2 separate regions of the Homo sapiens genome follow, and region 1 is linked to region 2. A link means that fine-mapping ties the variant in region 2 to the expression of a gene that starts in the linked region. Tissue or cell type: whole blood. Region 2 holds a variant in brackets; the other region holds the start of a gene. All regions are shown on one strand. Distances are between the middles of the regions.

Region 1 (8,106 bases), 48 kb before region 2:
AGGCAACGCCTCTTGGGCTCGCTAGCAGACACAAAATAGCAAAATGGTTTAAACAAAAACAAACCGAAGGATAAGACCTCTATATACATTTGATAAAATAAATTAAAATGGGGAAAATATGATCTTGTGCCAATTAAAAACGTCAGTCTGGGGATAAAAATAACTGAAGATAGTAGGTCAGAAAGATAAGAAGAACAGGGTCTTTCTTTGATGATAGTATACAGTTGCTAAATTAACCCTGGGACTTCTTACCTTTAGACATTTTGTTACATAAGATAATAAGTGCCATTATTATTTAAGCCCAGTGAGTATGTGGTGTTTTGGGGGTGGGGAAGAGTGATGGTTATTTGCCGTTATTTGGAGCTGGAAACATGCTAACTGATAAATTATCCTTTTGGTTTATAGGACAATGTCCTTGATGCCCAAAAACATTTTCTAATTTTGACAGAAGAGAAAGGATGTCAGTAGGTGTTAACTAATGTGAAAAGAAGGTAGAATGGCTCATGTGTGTGATGGAGATGAGAACTGGGAATACAGAGAGATATCTGACCTGGTAGTAATTTTTTCTTGCATGACTACTACATTGATAAGCACTGTGCTAAAATTTTTCAATTAATTATTTCATGCAATCTTCAAACCAACTTTATGAAATATGTACTATTATTTTTCCTACTTAATAACAGAAAGTGAAGCTTAGCAAGATGAAGTGACTTGTCTAAAATCACTTACTCAAGCTAGTGTTTTTTGTTTGTTTGTTTTGTTTTGAGATGGAGTCTCACTCTGTCGCCCAGGTTGGAGTGCAGTGGCACGATCTCAGCTCACTGCAACCTCCGCCTCCTGGGTTCAAGCAATTCTCCTGCCTTGGCCTCCCGAGTAGCTGGGATTACAGGCACCCACCACCATGCCCGGCTAATTTTTTATTTTTAGTAGAGACAGGGTTTCACCATGTTGGTCAGGCTGGTCTCGAACTCCTGACCTCATGATCCACCTGCCTTGGCCTCCCAAAGTGCTGGGATTACAGGCGTGAGCCACCGTGCCTGGCCCCCAAGTGTTGTTACAAGGGTTTGAAACCAGATAGCGTGGATGTGTCGGGAGTCTATGCTAATGGTCACAAAGTTCATAGGCACCATAAAGTTCAAAGCAAACTAATTGCTAACAACCCCAGTTTTTCTGTTTGTTTTTGTTTGTTTGTTTGTGTTTTGAGACAGGGTCTTGCTCTGTCGTCCAGGCTGGAGTGCAGTGGCACAATCTCAGCTCACTGCAACCTCTGCTTCCTGGGCTCAAGCAGTCCTCCCACCTCAGCCTCCTGAGTAGCTCAGACCACAGGCGCATGCCTGGATAATTTTTGTATTTTTTGTAGAGAACAGGTTTCACCATGTTGCCCAGGCTGGTCTCGAACTCCTGGTCTCAAGCAATCTGTCCCCCTTGGCCTCCCAAAGTACTGGGATTACAGGTATGAACCACTGTGCCCAGCCCCAGTTATTCTTTACATTTAAGTCAAAAACGAAAACAAAAAATCACCCTTTCCCATGGATTCTCACAGAAAGATCACTACATAATATGAACAATATCCTCAGCAGACATCTTAAGCTGAAACTGTGTTGAGTTTTATCGGGATGCTTATTATTCAAAATGTCTCTTACTACAGAACTTGCTTTGACTGCATCCTCAGAGGCTGAAAATCTTTGACAGTTGAAAGAATGAAGGATGTGCCATCCCCAAATATGCCATATAATATATTGATTACTTTGAGTTGAAAACATTAGAGAAATTATAGTTTCAGAAAGGGTAAAACTGAGGGCTGACCTGATTAGGCCTGACACTTAATTTGCCTTGCTTGCTTTTGGTCACTTGCTTCTAGTCGATTTTAAAACCTGCATAGCTAAAAGTCATGTAGCTAGACGATACATAACTAAATTCCACTTGCCTCCTTATAGATAACTTCTCTGATAGGACACCATGGAAAATATTGCTTAAGTTATTTTTCAGGAACTTAGAGTCAGTTCTTGTCCAGTTCAAGCCACCAGCCCTTCATCTTGGCCTGCGTGAGTGTCCAATGGGTGACCTTTTGACATCAGAAGGCCCAAAACTCCACTCTCAGATCATGCTAACGTCACGATTTTGTGAACATGTGTTCTATGAACAGCCATGAAGATTGACTATGCTTGCTCAGATTACCGATTGCCTCACTTTTCCTTACCTCATCTTTCTCTGAACCTTGGACCACCTTCCTCCCCTATCCCATAAGCACTCCTAAAATTCCATCTTTGGAAAGGCACATTTGAGGCCTGTTCTCCAGTCTCCTGTCTTGGCTGCCTTGTGAATACACCCTTTCTCTACTGCAAAACTTGTGCGCCTCAGTGATTGGCATACTGTGTGAAAGACAAATGAGCCTGGTTCCCTGACAGGAGCTGAGCTGTCTCTTCCTGCATGCAGCCAGCAATAAAGATTCCTCTAGGAGAGGTATGTTCTCCACGCCAGAGCGAGAAAATAGCTCTCATCACCAGAGATTTGGAACTGGAGGTGGCATTTGGACTGGAGTAAACATTCTTGCAAAGTAACCATTATCTTCCACCTGTTTTACACCCCACCCCCCATATATCTCCTAGGGGCTCCCCTAGAAATTTTTTACCACCCTAGCCGGATTTTCTTTGTCCTGTCACTTCTTCTTAAATTTATCACTCTTTTTCTAAAAAGTATAAAAGCATCTTGCTTTGGACACTTTCTTCAGGATTCAGTCTCTTAACATCCCCATGTACATGTAAAATTAATAAAATTTGTATACTTTTCTCTTGTTAATCTGCCTAGTGTCAATTTGGCTTCTAGATGCAGCTGATTAGCTCACTAAGAGCTAGAGGGTGTAGGGGGTTGGAGGTGATCTCTGCCTCCCTTATTGGTGAACTTGATTTTTGTAAACACTCAAAAGTCACTTAGGCTAGAGTTGGAGATGGAGATGGTTATTCACTGGGAAGGCCACAAGAGAATGTTTTAAAGTGATGGAAATATTTCATATCTCGATTATGGTGTAAGGACATTTCATTATATATAAATTATATATCAATTTTTTAAAAAGCTCTCAGACCAAGGCTAGTCATTACAGCAAGAAAATAGGCATAGCAAATTTAAAACTTTGGAGAAATATATAGAATATTTGCATATGGTGATTCTGATTTGCTTTAAAAGTGACATGATTAATGTATTTAGACAAAAATACTCTTCGTTTTTCTTTGCTTTTATTTACGATCAGGATACAAGAATTCTACGCTGCTGCCAAATAAATGACTAGTTAAAATTAACTAACTGAATCCTTAACAACCATTCTAAGAGGCAGATATTATTATCCCACTTTATGCGTGAGGGCCCAGAACCCTGGCAAGGGCGGCACACTCAGTACGCTCTTCAAGCATCTGGGCACACCCGGTCCACTACAGTCCTACAAAGTCGGACGTGAGCACGGGCGAAGGCGTCAGCCGGGGCCACACGGGAGTCACTGACCACAGCCAGGCGAGAGCCGGCTTTCCGGTGCCGCCACATTCCGGGCACCAGGCTCCGGGCTCTTCAGAGCATTTGGGGCGGGCGACGGAGGTCCCGTCCACTCTCGCTTGGGTGCAGAAGGGCGCGGCGGTGCCAGGAAGCCGCCTTGGAGGCTCCAAGATTAGCTCACTCAGCGCGGCCAAGCGCAGGTGCGGGGGCCCTCGCCGCCACCCTGCTTATCTGGGGACAGTCCCGGAACCCGGTGACCCGGCTCCGCCCCAACCCGCGCCCTCGTCCACCCGCAGCAGCCAAGGCCTCTTCCCCGGCCCCGGGAGCCCGCGCCACGCCCGTCGCTCGCGCGTTCCAGTCCAGGCTACAGCAGGTATCGCGATCCCGGCCCTCGGCCCCGCGCTCCCCTCCCCCGCCCCTGGCGCTCTCCGAGTGTGGCCGACCATGAGGATTCCCAGTCTTGCAAATCGTGGGAGCGTGTCAACCGCCCCGTTTCTTTCCAAAGCCGGGCATGGCCCGGAAGCAGCTGATCAGATCTTAGTTCTGAATGTATAGTTCGGGTACGAGAATGTGACCCGTGAAAGTTCAGAGGAGTTAAGTAATTACAGCGTTCTGAAAGCGAACGTTAAAGGGAATTTACAACCGAAAAAAGATGCCGGTCTTCTTCCCCCATCCCAGCTTGCAATTCACAGAAGCACACATTAGGGTGGAGCCAGAAGGAATTACGGAAAGGACAATGAGGACATTGAGAGGGAGGGTATGGGGGGTTAAAGTTAGTCCTCCGAGGCCAAGAAGCAGAGTGTCTTGGCCTAGTGTCTGAAAATCGCAGCGCAGGACGGAACTTCCGAGAGCCTATACCTCCCCACTTCCCCCTCCAGTTTACAGATGGGCAAACCGCTGTCCCGGGTGTCTGTCAGGTCTAGTAGCCCAGAATCTCAGTGCCTAGGCTTCACTGTAAATAATAAACTATGTAAATAACATTTACAAATATCCTTTGTGAGCTCAGAAACTCAGCATTACCAGTAACTGGGTAGTGGAACGCATCCATCTTCGTCGTTTACTCCTTCTCCAGGGGCTCTCCAGCCTGCATTCCATGGCCAACAGCAGTGCAGCTGCAGAAGCACTTCTGGAAGCCTCCTGACTTGAACTAGACCTTGGGTAAATAGGGTTTAGATAAGTGGAGGGGAGGGAAAAGTTTCACCTGAGGGGAGAATGAGCTAGTCTGCCAGACCCTTATAAAAGTATTGGCCTGGATGGGATGGAGGGCTTTGACCTGAAAGCCACAGGGAGAAGGGAACCCTGAGGAATTGGCTGAAAGAGGGGGGTTCTTAGGAAATGCACCAACAGGGAAGCCAGCGCTTTACCAGGGATTTCATTCATGGTGGGTATATTATTAATAGAGATTCGAATTCTCTAGAAGCTGATCATTTCTAAGAGAAACAATATTTAAACATTACTGTCGAAGGAAAGGTTGTGGGGAGAAAATGTTCTAGTTCTAAAACAGAACACCCATTTTCCCTGGTTGTATATGAATAATACAAATATGTCAAAAATCAAGCTTACTATGTGCCAAGCACTCTAAGAACTTTTTTTTTTTTTTTTTTTTTGAGACAGAGTCTTGGTCTGTCGCCCAGGCTGGAGTGCAGTGGCACAATCTCGGCTCACTGCAACCTCTGCCTCCTGGGTTCAAGCGATTCTCCTGCCTCAGCCTCCTGAGTAGCTGGGACTACAGGCATGCACCACCATACCCGGCTAATTTTTGTATTTTTAGTAGAGATGGGGTTTCACCCTGTTGGCCAGGCTGGTCTCGATCTCCTGACCTCAGATGAGCCACCCACCTCGGCCTCCCAAAGTGCTGAGATTACAGGCGTGAGCCACCGCGTCCAGCCAACTTTATGAAATTTAATTTATTTATTCCTAACAACAAATCCAGGAGGTTGTTACTTTTTAAAATCAGTGCCATTTTATAAATGTGGAGGCTGAGGCACCAAGAGGTTGCCCAAGGTAAGAAGATCTGGACTGAGGCTGAGTGGTGTGATACCAAGCATCCTGGCTTGGCTGGAATCAGATTTGGGTTCCAGTACTTCCACTCCTCTTGTTTTGTGAATTTAGCTTATCTGAGCCTTCATTTTCTTATCTGTGAAATGCATACTGTAATCCCTCCCTATTAGTGAGACAATGAATGTGCAGGTGCTTTGTGAACTACACATTGTGACACTAATAGGAAGTGTAAAGCCTTGCACTTCTAAGGCCAAATCCCAGCTAAGAAGAGCAAATGATGAGCTGGGTTTGACTTGCAGAATTTAGTGGGCTTACTACTCACCAAGAGGCAAGAGATACAGTTGTAGTTATGATGATAGACTTTGGAGTCAGATGGACCTATGTTGGGATCCCAGCCCTGCCACTTATTGGCTCTGTGACCTGAGACAAGTCACTGAACATTTCTCAAACTGCATTATCTCCATGGTCCTCCATTTGTTCATACATAAAATGGGCTTTATATTCCTCATAGAGCAGTGATGAGGATTACATGAGATGCCACTGATACAATGTCTGCAAGTAGTGAGTGCTCAATAAAACATAGCTAGAGTCGTTGTTTTTTCTGATTCTTCTTGCTCCTCATCCTATTTCCTTTGTCTTAATTTCCCCACAAAGACACCCTCTCCAGAGCCCAGCAATTGTGAGGGACTGATGGAGAAGTATGTGGCTGCTATGGTGCTGAGTGCAGCTGGAGATGCCCTGGGGTACTACAATGGGAAGTGGGAGTTCCTCCAGGATGGGGAGAAGATACACCGGCAGTTGGCCCAGCTGGGCGGCTTGGATGCCCTAGACGTGGGAAGGTGGAGAGTTAGTGACGACACAGTGATGCACTTGGCCACAGCAGAAGCTCTTGTGGAAGCTGGGAAAGCCCCTAAGTTGACTCAACTGTATTACCTCCTTGCTAAGCATTACCAAGACTGCATGGAAGACATGGATGGGCGGGCACCAGGTGAGCACAGCCGGTGGGAGGTGCAAGGAGGGCAAAGAATAAAACAGCCTTGAGGAAATCATTAAGAATGTTGATGGAGATTTAAATAACAGAGACAATAGTGTTTGTAAATGTGATAAAAATAGAAATAACGGCCATGGTGGTGGCTCATACCTGTAATTCCAGCTCTTTGGGAGGCCAAGGTGAGAGAATCACTTGAACCCAGGAGTTCAAGACAAGCCTGAGCAATATACGGAGACCCTGTCTCTAGAATGGGGTAGCCAATCCCTCTTCTAGAGACAGGTACTGATCCGTGGCTTGTTAGGAACTGGAGCACACAGCAGGAAGTGAGTGATGGGCGAAGGAGCATCATCACCTGAGCTCTGCCTCCATCAGATCAGTGGCGCATTAGATTCTCATAGGAGCCTGAACCCTGTTGGGAACTGCACATGCGAGGGATCTAGATTGTGGGCTTCTTATGAGAATCTAATGTCTGATGATCTGTGGTGGAACAGTTTTGTCCCAAAACCTCCCCCAACCAACCCCGTCCATGGAAAAATTATCTTCTGTAAAACCGGTCGCTGGTGCCAAAAAGGCTGGGGACTACAACTCCAGAAAAAAATTTTTAAAACATTAGCCAGGTGTCATGGCACATACCTGTAGTCCCAGCTACTTGGGGGGCTGAGGTAGGATGATTGCTTGAGCCCGGGAGGTTGAGGCTACAGTGAGCTAGGATCGTGCCACTGCATTCCAGCCTGAGTGACAAAGCAATACCCTGACTCTAAAAAATAAAGAAATAAATAGAAAGAACCTAAATCTCTCATAATTAATTAAGCTGACACATTTGCAACCATTTAAAATTATTCAGGGTGACTCTACTCAATAACAATGTATCGTATATTTCAAAATAACCAATAGAGTAAATTTCAAATGTCTCACCACAAAAAAAAGTGAGGCAATAGATATGCTAATTAGCCTGATCATCCCACATTGTTTACATATATCAAATCATCACATTATACTAAATAAATGTATATAATTGATTTGTCAATTTAAATATTAATAAAAATTTAAAATTTGCAAATAATATTTACTAATATTGAAAAGTATTATTATACACTAATAGGTTATAAAATAGTATGTATGTTATGAACCTACTGTCCTTTAAAAAATAGATCTGTGGGGCCAAGTGCTGTGGCTTACACCTGTAATCCCAACACTGTGAAAGGCCAAGGTGAGAGGATTGCTTGAGTCCAGGAGTTTGAGACCAGCCTGGGCAACATAGCAAAAGCCTGTCTTTAAAAAAAATTTTTTTGAGTGGCCAGTTAAAAAAAAATTTTTTTTTTTTTGAGATGGAGTCTCACTCTGTTGCCCAGGCTGGAGTGCAGTGGCACGATCTCGGCTCACTGCAACCTCTGCCTCCCAGGTTCAAGCGATTCTCCTGCCCCAGCCTCCCAAGTAGCTGGGATTACAGGCACGCACCACCACGTCTGGCTAATTTTTGTATTTTTGGTAGAGATGGGGTTTCACCATGTTGGCCAGGCTGGTTTCGAACTCCTGACCTCAGTTGATCCACCTGCCTCAGCCTCCCAAAGTGCTGGGATTACAGGCATGAGCCACCATGCCTGGCCAAAAAAAAACTTTTTTTTAAAAAA
Region 2 (8,106 bases):
GCTGCTCAAGGGAGAGTCTGGATGCCACATAGGTAACCAGCGGCTGCAGGGAGAGGAGCAGTCTCCTACACACACAGCCTGCTTCCCTGACGCTGGGTGTGTGGAGAGGGAGCAGGGCCGTTGCTGTATTTAATGAGTTAATTCTCTCTTTCTTTTTTTTTTTTTTTTTTTTTTTTGAGACAGAGTTTCACTCTTGTCACCCAGGCTGTAATGCAACGGCACCATCTCGGCTCACTGCAACCTCTGCCTCCCGGGTTCAAATGCTTCTCCTGCCTCAGCCTCCTTAGTAGCTGGGGTTACAGGTGCCTGCCACCATGCCTGGCTAATTTTTATATTTTTAGTAGAGACAGGGTTTCACCATATTGGCTAGGCTGGTCTCAAACTCCTGACCTCAGGTGATCCACCCGCCTTGGCCTCCCAAAGTGCTGCGATTACAGGAGTGAGCCACCACGCCTGACCTTATGAGTTAAACCTTTAGTTTATGTCTTAGTCTACTTGTGCTACTATGACACAGTACCTGAGACTGGGTAACTTACAAAGCTCAGAAATTTATTTTCCCACAGCTCTAGAGGCTGGGAAGTCCCAGATCAAGGCGCCGGCACTCCATGTCTATAAGGGTTGCACTTTCTGCTCCCAAGAAGGTGCTTTGCTGTTGCATTCTCCAGAGGGGACAGATACCGTGTTCACACACAGCAGAACGCAGGAGGTCAAATAAGGGCCCTGCCAATTCCCTTGAGCCCTTCTATAAGGCACTATTTCATTCATGATAGTAGAGCCTTCATGACTTAATCCCTTCCCTCAAAGGCCCCACCTCTCAGTACTGTTGCACAGAGCATTCAGTTTAAACATGAACTCGGAGGGGACACAAACAAAAGATAGCCGTATATGATAGATGCATTTTGGCTCATTCAAGATCATCCCACCATGAATATGTCAGCAAACAAGGGGAAGTAAAACATTAGTATTACAAAATAACAAAAACTAACATTACTGAATGCTTCCTAGGCACAGGCACTGTCCTGAGAAGTTCATACATATTAACCCACTTATTTCAGACCTAGGGTATCTATTTTTTTTTTTTTTTAGACGGAGTCTTGCTCTGCCGCCCAGGCTGGAGTGCAGTGGTGCAATTTCTGCTCACTGCAAACTCTGCCTCCTGAGTTCAAGCGATTCTCCTGTCTCAGCCTCCTGAGTAGCTGGGATTACAGGCACCCGCCACCACACCTGGCTAATTTTTATATTTTTAGTAGAGATGGGGTTTCACCATGTTGGTCAGACTGGTCTCAAACTCCTGACCTCAGGTGATCCACTCGCCTCGGCCTCCCAAAGTGCTGGGATTACAGGCGTGAACCACTGCGCCCAGCCAAGTGTCTATTTTTATTATCCTCAATTTGCACTTGAGGAAACTGAGGACCTGAGATTATAGGTGATCTGCTCCTGGGCACACAGCCACTAAGAGATAGAGCCAAGATTCCCAACCACACTGCTGCTCTCTGGGGTTTTTGCCCATTGCACCTTCTGCCCTCTGGCCAGTCTCTGTTGTGCTTTGGTTTCCTAGTGCATCACAGCCTCGTGGAGTTTCACTTGAAGGAACTGAGAAACAAGGACACCAACATCGAGGTTACCTTCCTTAGCAGTAACATCACCTCTTCATCTAAGATCACCATGTACGTAAGTGTCCCACCTGGTTGACTCCTCCCCTTAGGAGTTGGTTACTTTTTCATTTTACACACATGGACATCCCAGGTCAGGGACTGTGTGATTGCTGATGCATGGGCCCAGCCGGCTTGGCTGGGGGCAGCACCTACTATAGATCCAGCCACAGACACATGCTGAGGAGCTGTTCAGTAGTGGGTCCAAGTATAGCAGATTCAGATGAGAGTAGGCAGGGCAAGCAGGCAGCAGGGATGGCATGTCCCAACAGATGGAGAGGACATAGGAATCAGGTCCCTGAGAGGAAACAGTACTCTGGAATCCAGACAGTGCGGGTATCAGGGATGTCAGTAGGGAGGAGGGCCTCAGTCACCAGCCCAGGAAGGGCTAGCCAGAGCCTGGAGAGCACCCACTCCTGGGAAAGGAGAGCAGTTCTGGGTCAGTTACCAGAATGGAATCTGAGGCACAGGGTCAGTCAGCAACGGAGTGCGAGCTGAGGGCCAGACTAGCGGCCAGGAGGGCTTGGTGCTGGGTGATTCCTGAAACTGGGGGTAGTCATTCCCTTCCTTTGTTGGGGCAGACTTGGGCTTGGGGGCTGGTGGGACTACGCTTGAAGTGAGAGGGCAAGGAACCCCAACTGTAGGGAGCCACAGCCTGCAGGGGATAGGAAGTCAGCAGCCATGGTGCATGCTTCTTTAAAAAGCAACCGGTTAGTTATTCACAAGCCAGCGGGAGACAGATTGTCAGATAATGTCACTGTCTCAGTGAGAGTCCGGTCAGGAAAACAGAGGAGGTCCAAGAGAAGGAATTTAGCACAGTGAACTCATTACAAGTGTGTTGGATGAGCTGGAAAACAGAGATGGGGACACAATGCAGAGATTAATCACAACAGGAGCCAATACAACCCTAGGCTAGAGGGACAAAGCAGGAGTGGAGTTGGCAAAGCTGGGTCCACAGGGAAGGCTGCTTGGCAGGAGCTGAACCCATGGGAAGTGCGGCCCCTCTGGAACCCCTGCCCAAAGCAGCCACCCACCTGAGCATGCTTCCACTGGGTTAGACCTCACTGGAACCTGTTGGTGGGGGAACCTGCAGGGGAATAGATCAGTCCAGAGCAAACAGGGAAATGACCAGTGCACACACACTTAAATGAGTGAGCAATGCCCTGAGAGTGACAGCATAGAAGACAGAGTCTGACTGAGTCCAAGGAAATGATGAGCAGGCTTTCCAGGAGCTACCCAGGCCAGGCTTAGAGAGAATGTGACACCTCTGGTGTGTCTGGAGCACAGATTTGGGGTTGTGGGGATGCTGTGAGGCTGGAGAGGCAAGTCAGAGCCAGACCCTGCCAGGCCTTGAAGGACAGGTTTTTATCCTGAGAGTAGTTTGGAGAGCCACTGGGAGTTTTAAACAGGACAGTGATGAGATCAGATGTGAGTTTGGAGATATTTCTCGGGTTGGGATGTTGGACATGAACTCTGCTGTGAGGCACTACAAGTTTCTGCTGGAAGGAGTGCATTTCACTCCCAAAACCGTGGCCACTAGCTGGTGTTCCTTCTGGCTCACCCAAAGTCACACAGCTAGGTACAGCCATCAGGATTCCAGCACAGGCCTGCAGGTGCCCACAGAGCCTTGCAGATTGTGGCTGGATATCAGTAAGCCAAGTACCTTTCATTAGACCCGCTCAAGGTTGTGCTACTTCTAGAAGGGTGTTTTCATCATCTTCTAGCCCATTGGTAGGTCCAGCAACACTGGCAGGAGTCATGAAAATGACCCACAACCCTGACTGCACGTTAGAATCACCTGGAGAGCTTTAAAAAATACTGACGCCAAGCCCCCCAACCCAGACCAATCACATCAGGGTCTCTGGGCATAGGCTCCACAGCTACATTTTAAAAGCTCCCCGAGTAATTCCAGTCAACATCCACAGATTAGCGCTTCCTCCTCCATGAAGAGGTTCACATAACTCTTTTGAAGAAGGCACCAGAACATGATTCACTTCTTGCAGATCAGAAATTGGGGGAAAAACGGGGAGGTTATGTGTGGTCTTTTTCCAAATTTCTATAGCTTTATGCGACGCTAAGATTTCCTTCTAATTGGAGAATTAACCTGGGCCAACTCCCCAAACCACTCACTTAAAAGATTTTTCATATTCCTTGTATTTTACAAACTCTTCAGTCTAAGCTTAAAGGAAACAATCTTATTTATTCCCTCTGTAATATTTCAAAAGACTTGTGAATTTAAAAAAAGAGGGAATGGTTTTTAAACAAAATTATACATGATCTTCCCTCAGAAGGAAAAAACAAGTGATATGACTAACACTGGACTAAAAAGAACACAAAGAGGCCCTATCACCACTCTGCGAAGGCCAGAAAGGAACAGGAAACCCAGTTGGCAAGGGTGGTTCCCCACACCACCCCT[G/GA]CCCCCGCCGAGAGGAACGCAGCGCCCTCCTTCTTTCCTCTTTTTCAGAGTCCCACTTGGATTCCAGGGAGGATCACAAAGGGCCCCACAAGTCAAATTCCTTCCCTAGCTGGGTGGTGCAGCTCTGCTGGGCGCCCTCCTTGATCCCCCACTCACCACCCTCAGGATCTGCTGGCTGGGCTGTGCCTTGCACTCAGCGTGAAGACTTTCCTCATTGAATCTCACGATTTTTTGCTTTTGTCTCCAGTACCTAGTACCTAGGGGGTACCACAGCCCTTTTGGAAGCACCCTGCTAGGTTGATCACTTCATACTCCTCCCTCATCTTTGTCTCAGTCCAAAGTGGTGCCTGAATCTTTAAACATAAAGGGAATCTGGGGGGGCAAAGCCAAGAGGCTGGGTTAAGACAGAACTGGATGCCATTTTCACTCTGAGTCTCCTCAGCTGAAGTCAGTATGAACCAAACCCTACGGTTCAAGTTCATAGCAGCATGTAGGGAAGCTGGAACTTACACCTAGTTGCTATGTGACTCCACAGCCACCTTGCCAGCTTAGGTAACTTGTCCAAAGCCATACAGCTGGGAAGACAAACCTGGGTTCCACCCAACTCTGTCTGCGCTTCATGATGTTTTCTTGTTGCTGTTTCCACCCACACATTCATACTTAGCCTAAAACAGAAAAGTCCTTACACAGAATTCTTTGAAAAGGAATGTCCTAAAAGAGGGTTTCTACTTCTGGGTAATTAGATCTGAAGGTGAAGATCTCCTCCAGCTAGGAATCCAAGAACGAGGAACAGTTTTTCCAGATATGAAAATCCAGGAGCTACTATTTTGTTGCAGTGTCCACTTGTTTATTCTAAAAAATCAACAACTACTTTCTTGGTCATATTCAAAGCTGTAGGTGTGGGCAGAGGGGCTGGTGAAGGTGACACAAAGGACTGTGGTAAGGAGCTAACCCCTTGGTGCATGACAGCCAACCAGTGCCACCAGCAGAGCCCGATCGGAGCCAAAGGGGAAGTACAGGTGGTAAGGGCTACAGTCATTTACTTTCCCTTTACCCTTTTCTTGCAGACCTAAGCAGCAACGCTATGGGAAAGGAATCATAGCCCATGCCACCCCACAATGCCAGATAAACCAAGTGAAATTCAAGTTTCAGTCTTCCAACCGAGTTTGGAAAAAAGACCGGACTACCATTATTGGGAAGTTCTGCACTGCCCTTTTGCCTGTCAATGACAGGTAAGCCCCAGTATTCACCTCTGCACCAGATGCACTCACACATCAAAGACCAGTCTTGGCATTAGATGTGCTGCCTATTGAGGTTCAATCTCATCATAGTGATTATCATCTTAGAAGCAGAGATGACAGACACCCGGTGTTTTCCAGAACCTCCTGTGGGACCATCTTGGGTTGGGGAAATTCCACTGTATTTGTTCTGCATATTTGGTTTCTATGTAAGATTTTATTAGAACAAAGTTTTCTCATTGCATATTTTCTCCTCTGTGGCCTCCACTCCAACTGTGTCATGGGTCACATTCATGGGTGTGGATCCAGAATCCACATCCCCTTTCCCTTCCTCTAAAGGCATTTATGTCATTAACCTTACCACCCCTGGGCACTTGGACCACAGGAACTGGCTCTTAATTGTAGGTGATTGCAGATTTCTTTCACCAGACATCATGGGAATTCAAAAGCCACACAATGCCAAGCCCTGTCTCCTCACCAGCCACTGCTCTCTTATTGCTCTTCTCTTCCAGAGAAAAGATGGTCTGCTTACCTGAACCAGTGAACTTACAAGCAAGTGTGACTGTTTCCTGTGACCTGAAGATAGCCTGTGTGTAGTTTAACCTGGGCAGGACACATCTCCCTGCATTTTTTTTTTTTTTTTGAGAGAGAGGTGTGATGAGGGATGTGTGTGTGCAGCTTATTGTAGACCATTACTACTAAGGAGAAAAGCAAAGCTCTTTCTTATTTTCCTCATAATCAGCTACCCTGGAGGGGAGGGAGAACTCATTTTACAGAACTTGGTTTCCTTTGCCGATCTTATGTACATACCCATTTTAGCTTTCCCATGCATACTTAACTGCACTTGCTTTATCTCCTTGGGCATTCGTACTTAGGATTCAATAGAAACATGTACAGGGTAAACAATTTTTTAAAAATAAAACTTCATGGAGTATCTGAATCATTTAATTGTTTTACTTGAATGGAATTCTGTTACCTACAAAAAGTTGAGATTTATACTCTGTGGGATTGGAGAAAACAGTATTGCATTATCGGTATTAAAATAGCAACTAAAAGAAGTACTTGGAAAAAGAGAGGGGATGAAGGGTAGGGAGGAAGATGGCACCATTTACCAACCCTTACCATTACCTCCTCTGGATATCTGGAAGGTTTGAGGGATCAGAGAGATCTTGGGGAATACAGGTAGATTTCCTCTGGGTTAGTGTTTCCCAAACTTTGATCTTTGTAAATAACCTTGTATCAGCCGCAGCCCAGCAAAAAACAGATGGTGCGCTCAATCTGGGTTATTTGAGGAGAATTTAAGAAAAGGACAATTTGCCATAGTCTTTTGTGGGGCAACCACAGGGATAATGCAGTTCCCTGAAGCTACTGGCAGTAGAAGCTGCTACTACCCTACCTGTGAAGAGGCCAGAGAAGGAGGGGAAGCACCAGAAGGCTGCAGACCTGCAGTGCAGGGACACAGCCAGCCAGCAGCAACCCCGCAGGGAGGGAGCAGAAGCACAGGTTCTCTGACTTCACTCTTCTTCCTCTCCCATTTTCCTGCTAGTGCTCCCCATTAAGGACCCCCAACAGAAGCCAGAGGACAAATAACACATTGACATGGCCTAACCAGGCCCGGGGCATACAGCAGGACAGAGAAGGTTGGAGAGTGGATGGGAAGGGGGTGCGGAACTAACAGATATGGCACACGCCTTCACCACTTTCCCAAATCCAGGTTGCCTCGGATTCTTTTATTCTTTAAATTCACTTTTTAAAAAACATAAATAAATGAGCTTTAAAAGGAAACTGCTGACTTGCTGATTCACTCTCCACAATGAAGACAGGGAGAATGATGTAAGCAACAGGCTGCAATTACTTCATCTGGGCCAAGTCAGCCAGGGCACTGAGAGAGCTTCGGCCTTTGTCCAGGCCTTGGAAATGCAACCAAAAGGACAGGTGAGGCTCACGAAGATGTTTAACTGTCTGCATGATCACAGTCATGTCTAAAGAATACACATGTTCCCTGCTATGTAGGCTTGCAATTTTCTATTTTGCCTCAAACCAAAAACCCTCCTTTCCTTTTCCTTCTCTTTACTCCACCCAGGTTCCTCCCTAGAGACAGTCTTACCCTGAGCTGTATTACGCTGCACTTCCATTTGCCATCTTGGGAGACACTGCTTAGCACATACTTCTTCCTTAGTTTTCCCCACTGCTCGTTGCTTTTTTTTCCAAATGTGTATCACATTTCTGTGATGAAAATCATATTGTCGGCCGGGCGCGGTGGTTCACACTTGTAATCCCAGCACTTTGGGAGGCCAAGCTGGGTGGATCACTTGAGGTCAGGAGTTCAAGACCAGCCTGGCCAACATGATGAAACTCCATCTCTACTAAACATGCAAAAAAAAAAAAAAAATTAGCTGGAAATTAGTCAGTGTGGCGGCACATGCCTGTAATCCCAGCTACTCAGGAGGCTGAGGCACAAGAATTGCTTGAACCCAGGAGGCAGAGGTTGCAGTGAGCTGAGATCATGCCACTGTACTCCAGCCTAAGAGACACAGTGAGACCCCATCTCAAAAACAACAACAACAAGAAATCATGTTTTGTGATGTTGATGCTAACTGGTGTTAAACTCACTCAATCTGTTTTTCAGTGGCCTCAAATTCCATTCTGCTTTTGGCCATAGCCCTGGGTTTCTTTGCGAATATTTTCTTATTTTTAAACACTGTTAGACTTTCTCACATGTTACTTTGCTCCGTCAGAAATTTTGGATTATTACCTTACATGGAAAAACCAGTTTCTCTACTCATAAATTAATCCTAGA

Evidence for each region. PIP is the estimated chance that this variant, and not a neighbour inherited with it, causes the effect.
Region 1: it holds the start of ADPRH, and the variant in region 2 is fine-mapped to the expression of ADPRH in whole blood (TOPMed, PIP above 0.99). The same link has a PIP of 0.9 or more in blood mononuclear cells.

Annotation. Positions count from the first base shown.
Region 1 is chr3:119,575,996-119,584,101 of GRCh38, forward strand. It overlaps ADPRH (ADP-ribosylarginine hydrolase), which reads left to right and starts at 3,497. Exons shown (of 5, transcript NM_001125.4): 1 at 3,497-3,856; 2 at 4,556-4,641; 3 at 6,139-6,472. The coding sequence starts at 6,175. RefSeq lists enhancers at 3,101-3,602, 3,387-3,486, 4,427-4,646, 5,751-6,950, 6,114-6,413 and a silencer at 3,667-3,806.
Region 2 is chr3:119,623,566-119,631,671 of GRCh38, forward strand. PLA1A (phospholipase A1 member A) reads left to right here. Exons shown (of 11, transcript NM_015900.4): 9 at 1,559-1,667; 10 at 5,136-5,300; 11 at 5,819-6,246. The coding sequence ends at 5,903. Among named protein-coding and RNA genes, the nearest start is that of PLA1A, 30 kb to the left of the region's middle. RefSeq lists an enhancer at 560-759. The variant G/GA (reference allele first, on the strand shown) is at 4,069.